2 linked regions of the Homo sapiens genome follow. The protein of the gene in region 1 purifies or fractionates together with the protein of each later gene. This does not show direct contact. Each region holds a gene or a part of one and is shown on either strand. Other genes may lie near its edges.

Region 1 (3,652 bases):
GAATTTGGAAGAGGTTGATTCCAACCTTCATGGATGACTTCGAGAGATTCAGGCCTTCAGTGGAGGAAGTAATTGCAGGTGTGGTAGAACAAGCAAAAGAACTAGAATTAGAAGTAGAGCCTGAAAATGTGACTAAGTTGTTGCAGTCTCATAAAAATTGAACAGATGAGTTGCTTCTTATTGATGAGCAAAAAAAGTGGTTTATTGAGATGGAATCTACTTCTGGTGAAGATGCTGTGAACATTGTTGAAATGTCAATAAAGGATTTAGAATAAACTTACTTGGTAAAGCAGCAGCAGGTTTAAGAGGACTGATTCCAATTTTGAAAGGAGTTCAGCTGTGGGTAAAATGCTATGAAACAGCATTGCAGCATCACAAAAGAGAAATCTTTTGTGAAAGGAAGACTCAATGCAGCAAACTTCATCGTCTTATTTTTAAAAATTGCCACAGCCACCCCGCCTTTCAGCAACCACCACCCTCATCAGTCAACATCCATCAGCATCAAGGGCAGACCCTTCACTGGCAAAAAGATTAGGACTCACTGAAGGCTCAGATGATTTTTAATGTTTTTAGCAATAAAGTATTTTTAAATTAAGGTAGGTACATCTTCCAGACTCCTGTTAATGTTGATATTTTGCCTCCTCCCATGAATCGTGTACTTAATGGGATCTAGATTTTTTTAGACATAATGATATTGCATACTTAATACTAACTGTAGTTAGTGTATAGTGTGAACATAACTTTTATGTGAACTGGGAAACCAGAAAATTTGTGTGACAATTTATTTTGATACTTGCTTTGTTGTGGTGGTCTGGAACCAAATCTGCGGTATCTTCAAGGTATGCCAGTAGAATGAGTATGTGCTAACCCCATGCACTGTCGCAGGCTCTGAAAGGACGAAGAGATGGATCTCCAAAATGCCATGTTCTTTAACACTTCCTGCCCTATTTTCACAAGTTACCATCTCTCCGAAACCCTTCAAAGCTCTCCAAACAGTTACTCTTTCTGTTTTTCTCTTTACCTTATCCATATCTTATCTATAACATTCATTTTATATTGCAACTACTTGCTTTCCTGTTTATCTTCACCACTAGATTGAACTCTTTAAGTTAGTATCTTAATCCTTCCGTATTTTCCCAGCACCTAGCACAGTGCCTGGCACGAAGTAGTGGGTAACAGTTGTATTTGTTGGTGACTGTGCTGTTATCAGGTTAGACTTCGTGGAGGAGGGATATTTAGATAGACTCTCGAGCATGGTTAGGTCAGCAGGTAGAGATGAAGAGAATGGCATGGGTAAAGGTGTAGAGATTTGAGAGTCATGGACTGTATGTAGAAGTGTTAGAGGGGCTAGTGGAGGTGAGGCCATGTGGACTATTTAGTAAGCAACAGGGAGCCATTTTTTTCTTAGAGGTAACACAGGGAATGACTGATCCCCATGACTAAAAATAGGGATGATGACAAAGAGGGTAAGGTTTGAGAAAAGGGACATAGATTGAGCGATGAGGAGAAGATGAGACCCAGCTTTACCTTGCTTGAGGTCCTGGTGATGACCCTGTATGCACAGTTGACAGCTTGAAGGTTACAGCTTGGAATGCTATCTTAAGAGAACTTCGGGAATCCTTTCCAAGTAATATCAGTGATTTTCGCTTATTTATGTACTCAAGGGAATTTCCCTTAGAGAAGTACGCCATGTTTCAGTGTGAGAACCACTTCATTTTTAATCAGTTTGGCAATATACAGTATTCCCCCATTATGTTCCAAGACCCCCAGTGGATAATACTGAATTCTATATATACTATGTTTTTTCCCATACATATATACCTATGATGAAGTTTACTATATAAATTAGGAATATCAGCAGATTAGTAACTAATAATAGAACAATCATAACAATATACTCTAGTAAAAGTTGTGTGAATTTGCTTGTTTGCTTGCTGTCTCTAAATATTTTATTGTACTGTACTCACCCTTCTTTCATACTACAGTTGACCACAGGTAACTGAAATTGTGGAACATGAAATTGAGGATAAGGAGGGGACTACTGCAGTCAGGATTTTAGTCATCTATTAACAAAAAGAAATGAGTTTCATGGGAAATCATTCCATAATTAAGCTAAATCATCCTATTCACTTTTATTTTTTTTGAGGCGGAGTCTTTCTCTGTTGCTTAGGCTGAAATGCAGTGACTCGATCTCAGCTCACTGCAACCTCCACCTTTTGGGTTCAAGCAATTCTCCTGCCTCAGCCACCCAAGTAGGTGGGATTACAGGTGCCCACCACCACACCGAGGTAATTTCTGTATTTTTAGTAGAGACGGGGGGTTTCACCATGTTTGCCAGGCTAGTCTTGAACTGCTGACCTCAAGTGATCTGCCTGCCTAGGCCTCCCAGAGTGCTGGGATTACAGGCATGAGCCACTGCGCCTGGCCCTATTCACTTTCTTGAGAGTTAATTCAGAAATGTCTCTGAACAGTCATCAGTGGCTACTGCCACTGTCCTTAGACTATTTCTCTTGTTTTCCAGGCAGTCACATTTAAAAAGAAAAAAAGAGAAGAGAGTCAGAATTAATTATTCTCAATTTAACAAACAAAAGGAATGATTTTATTTCACTTTCCCATATTTTTGGCTAAAAATACTTACTACCTATTTGTGGTCATTTATTGGAGACTTTCAGAGAAAAATTGGCAGAAACTGATGAATAATCAGTGAACTAACATAGATACCATTAAAGAGAATGTACTTGTGCAGTGATAGAGCAGACTTGAGAACTTGAGTTATAGTTAAAATGGCACAAGCAACTTGCCAGGGCTTCATGTAGTTCATCATTTTCCATTCTGTTGGTCATTCATGAGTAGATCAACAAATATTTCTGGAAGTCCCTGCTGTTTTCCAGGCTTTGTGCCTCTCCAGAAGGCACTTGCCCAGTGGAAACCAGCAGAAAAACATTGGTACCACAGTGCAATACATGCTACCTATGAGCTATGCACAGTGTAAGAAACAAGAGAAGGTGAGATTTAGGTAAGCACTTCTAGAGGCTCTAAATCTGGAAGGCAGCTTGAGTAGGAGTTGCTCAGGGGCTGTGGGGCTTAATAAGCCGTAGGAATTTGTTCAGAGACAGGGGAAGCAAAGGAGCTAATATATTTATAAATCTCCAAGTACTCAAACCTTGCCATGCCAGAGTCTAGATGCCATGAGAGAGTGGTACAGGATAAAGCTGTGGTTATGGGCTGAGGCTAATTCTTGCAGGGCTTTGTCGCCTTGTTTGGGAGACCAGGAAGTCTCTATGAGAAGTGGAGTAATGAGTGATTGTGTTTGAATAACATATGAAAACATATTTTGGTATGCATACCTTTCAACCCAACAGTTCCACCTCTAGTGAACTGTTAACATTAAAAGTTCTTGCATACAAGTTCCCAAAAGTGAGCAAAAATGGGTGCATGAGGTTTTTTCATAGTAGAAAAAAATCTGGAAACGAGCAAAATTTGTATTTACAAGATGCTGGTCAAATAAATCTTGAGGTGACCATATATGTAATTAAATGCAAGGCAGTGATTTTTTAAAAATCAGATAATTCTATATCTTAAAGTACTGTACAAAGATATTTTTTGAGTTAAGTTGTGGGAGTGGGGCTCTTACGGTGTCTCACATTTCAAA
Region 2 (3,652 bases), on another chromosome or scaffold:
CATTATAATTTTTTTTTTTTTTTTTGGGGGAGAAGTCTCGCTGTGTCTCCCATGCTGGAGTGCAGTGGTGTGATCTCGGCTCACTGCAACCTCCACCTCTCGGGTTCAAGCGATTCTCCTGCCTCAGCCTCCTAAGTAGCTGGGATTACAGACGTCTGCCACCACGCCCGGTTAATTTTTGTATTTGTTAGTAGAGCCGGGATTTTGCCATGTTGACCAGGTTTTGTAATGGAATTTAGTGGGAAAAGAGGGCAATCATTATTACATAAGCTTATAAAATATATTGTTTTCTAGGCTATATAAAGCAGTAAAGTCTAGGAATAACAATTTAAATGATTATATTTGAATTATAAGAAGTAAACAATTTATGATATTTAAAAAGTGACATTTTCCCTAAATTTGAACCGACCATCTCCTCTCTTTTTCATTTAAAAAACTTTTTTTTTTTTTTTTTTTAGGTGAAAGACCAAAGAAACCAATCCCTCTTCAGGATCAGACTGTCAGAGATGAAAAAGGAAGGTATAAACGATTCCACGGGGCCTTTAGTGGAGGTTTCTCTGCTGGATACTTCAATACTGTTGGCTCAAAAGAAGGTATCATTTTCCTAATTGTAGCTATTATACCATTAAAGCAAATGATCAAAATATTGATTCTCCCTCACCCTTGCTTTTTTTTTTTTTAATTTTGAGACAAGAGTCTCGCTCTGTCGCCCAGGCTGGAGTGCTGTTGTGTGATCTTGGCTTACTGCAACCTCCGCCTCCTGGATTAAGCGATTCTCCTGCCTCAGCCTTCCAATTAGCTGGGATAACAGGCGCATGCCACTATGCCTGGCTAATTTAAAAAAAAATACTTTTAGTAGAGACAGGAGTTTCACCATGTTGGCCAGGCTGGTCTCAAAGTCTTGACCTTGAGTGATCTGCCCACCTTGGCCTCCAAAAGTGCTGGGATTGCAGGTGTGAGCCACTGCACCCGGCCACCTTTGCTTTTTTTTTTTTTTTTGCGATGGAGTCTTGCACTGTTGCCCAGGCTGGAGGGCAGTGGTGTGATCTTGGCTCACTGCAACCTCCGCCTCCCGGGTTCAAGCGATTCTCCTGCCTCAGCCTCCCAAGTAGGTGGAATTACAGGCGCCTGCCACCATGCCCAGCTAATTTTTTTTGTGTTTATAGAGACAGGGTTTCACTATGTTGGCCAGTGTGGTCTCTAACTCCTGGCCTCAAGTGATCCGCCTGTCTTGGCCTCCCAAAGTGCTGGGATTACAGGTGTGAGCCACTGCGCTCAGCTTTCTCTGAACATACACTGTAACCTCTTGTGTTCTTTGGATATTTGGATGTTTCCAGAGTCAACTTGTATCTTGTTCATTGATTGCAACCTTATGGTTAAAGAGTTTTCTTTCACTTTGTAAAAAAATGCATACCTCCTAATCAGATGATTAAATGATAATAATGACTTTGGTTTTTATTGTGTCTTGCCATTCACGAAATACTCTTAAACAGAGTCTTTCAGTTAATCATTGACTGTCTCTCGTGACTGAGTGAGTGAGGAGGGCAGGTGTCACAGGGATCTTGCAGATGATGCCACCAAGGGTCAGAGAGGTTAAGGAGCCAGCATGGCGTTAGTGCTGAGGGAAGAGTCACCAGGTGCCCTCTTCAGACACTGGGGACCACAGCAAGACTGGCTCCTCAGTGCTCTCTACCTGGGGAAAAGTCAGTTAAATCTTTTATGTTATGTACTTTTATAAATGCCAAGTTGTTTAAAGTATTGTATGTTTTAAGATATATTAATCTAGAAGCATTTTTTTGAACTGGAAGAAATGGCTTTCTATATCTCAGTTATGAATGGAAGATGAACTGATTTTATTATATGTGCTGCCATAGTGAGCACGGAAGATGAACTGATTAATTCACATAGCAATTATCAAGAAAAAGATGGGCTAGATCTTTTATAATTTTTTTTTTTTTTTCCTGAGATGTAGTCTCACTCTGTCGCCCAGGCTGGAGTGCAATGGCATGACCTCGGCTCACTTCAACCTCCGCCTCCTGGGTTCAAGCAATTCTCCTGCCTCAGCCTCCCGAGTAGCTAGGACTACAGGTGCCCGCCACCACACCCGGCTGATTTTTGTATTTTAGTAGAGATGGGGTTTCACCATGTTGTTCAGGCTGGTCTCGAACTCCTGACCTCAAGTGTTCCACCCGCCTCAGCTTCCCCAAGTGCTGGGATTACAGGCGTGAGCCACCATGCCCGGCCTTACCATTTTATTTAATTAATTGATTTATTTTTTGAGACAGGGTCTCACTCTGTCGCCCAGGCTTTAGTGCAGTGGTGCACCTACTGAGAGTAGACCTTCCCCAGATGCCTCAGCTCACAGGGCCCTTGGAGAGAATCAGGAAGGAGGTGCAACCCTCTTAGAGAAAACTAAACAACTTTATGTGCAGAGGTTACAGACATATGTGACCTCCAGAGCATTCCCTGTTTGTGGACGTGGCACATGCTCGGTAACCGTGGTCAGGGAACAAGGCCATTGGTTACAGGATTCCAGTGTCTGTTGAAACTGGGGGACTGGCAGAGCCGCTGCCCTTGGACCTGCCAGGTTGAGTCTTTGGTCAGGGTACTGTGAATGTTGCCTGGATTCCTTCTGTTACTCTCTCTTTATCCACTCTGACTGATTAAAACACCTTGACATCATATCTTTACACTTGATCTTAGCCAAAAGGCCTAGAAGCGATGACATCATTTCTTTAGATATGTTAATATGCCAGTGGAGGTTGCTGGTCTCACGTCCTGCATTTTAAGGTGACCTTGCATCTGTCAGCTCAGATCTGCTTGTGTTCATTTCACAGTTTAACTTTCAATGTGTAATTCTATATCTCTTGGTTTCACTTTCTTATGGGGAAACCTTAATGTATCCACTAAGTTTTACATCAGGGGATACAGGGATTAATAAGAAATTTATGTGGAATAATTACGTCTATATAAGCACTGAGATGGGAAGTAGCTAAGAGTTTATAGTTATTGGGAATTTCAAGTCCATACATGTTATTTAATCATTTACTCATAGACCCAAATACTCTCTAGGATTGTAAAGTTCTAAACTCTTTTTTTTTCAGGATGGACACCCTCTACCTTTGTGTCTTCACGACAGAACAGAGCAGACAAATCTGTTCTTGGTCCTGAAGATTTTATGGATGAAGAGGTGCGTGTGCAAAACTTTAATTGCCAATTAGCTGGTGGGACAGGTCTAGTTGGTTGCTGTAACTGCCTTCTCTCTCCCCAGAAGGTCCAATGTACGATTTCCTCTTTGTTTGTAAGGCTTTATCTTTTAGGTATTTGATGTGCAGTGTCCTGTACATCAGTAGAGTCTTGTTCATTGGAGGAGCATTTTATACTGGGGCCAATTTCTAAAATCAAGAGTGTAAGGGGAAAGTCATATACAGGCAATTTACTTGAAAAGCCTCGTGGCTGGGTGCGGTGGCTCACGCCTGTAATCCCAGCACTTTGGGAGGCCGAGACAGGCGGATCACGAGGTCAGGAGATCAAGACCATCCTGGCTAACACGGTGAAACCCCGTCTCTACTAAACAAAATACAAAAAATTAGCCGGGTGTGGTGGCGGGTGCCTGTAGTCCCAGCTACTCGGGAGGCTGAGGCAGGAGAAT

What was found. Proteins that work in one complex are often made in the same cells at the same time.
Region 2: the proteins of KIAA1143 (region 1) and GPATCH1 purify together in Homo sapiens (affinity purification with mass spectrometry; 2 studies listed by BioGRID and IntAct, with this or other methods). This does not show direct contact.

The regions. Positions count from the first base shown.
Region 1 is NC_000003.12:44,755,054-44,758,705, reverse strand, and holds part of KIAA1143 (uncharacterized protein KIAA1143), read left to right. Parts: intron 1-3,652.
Region 2 is NC_000019.10:33,087,676-33,091,327, forward strand, and holds part of GPATCH1 (G patch domain-containing protein 1), read left to right. Parts: intron 1-458; coding exon 459-593; intron 594-3,104; coding exon 3,105-3,190; intron 3,191-3,652.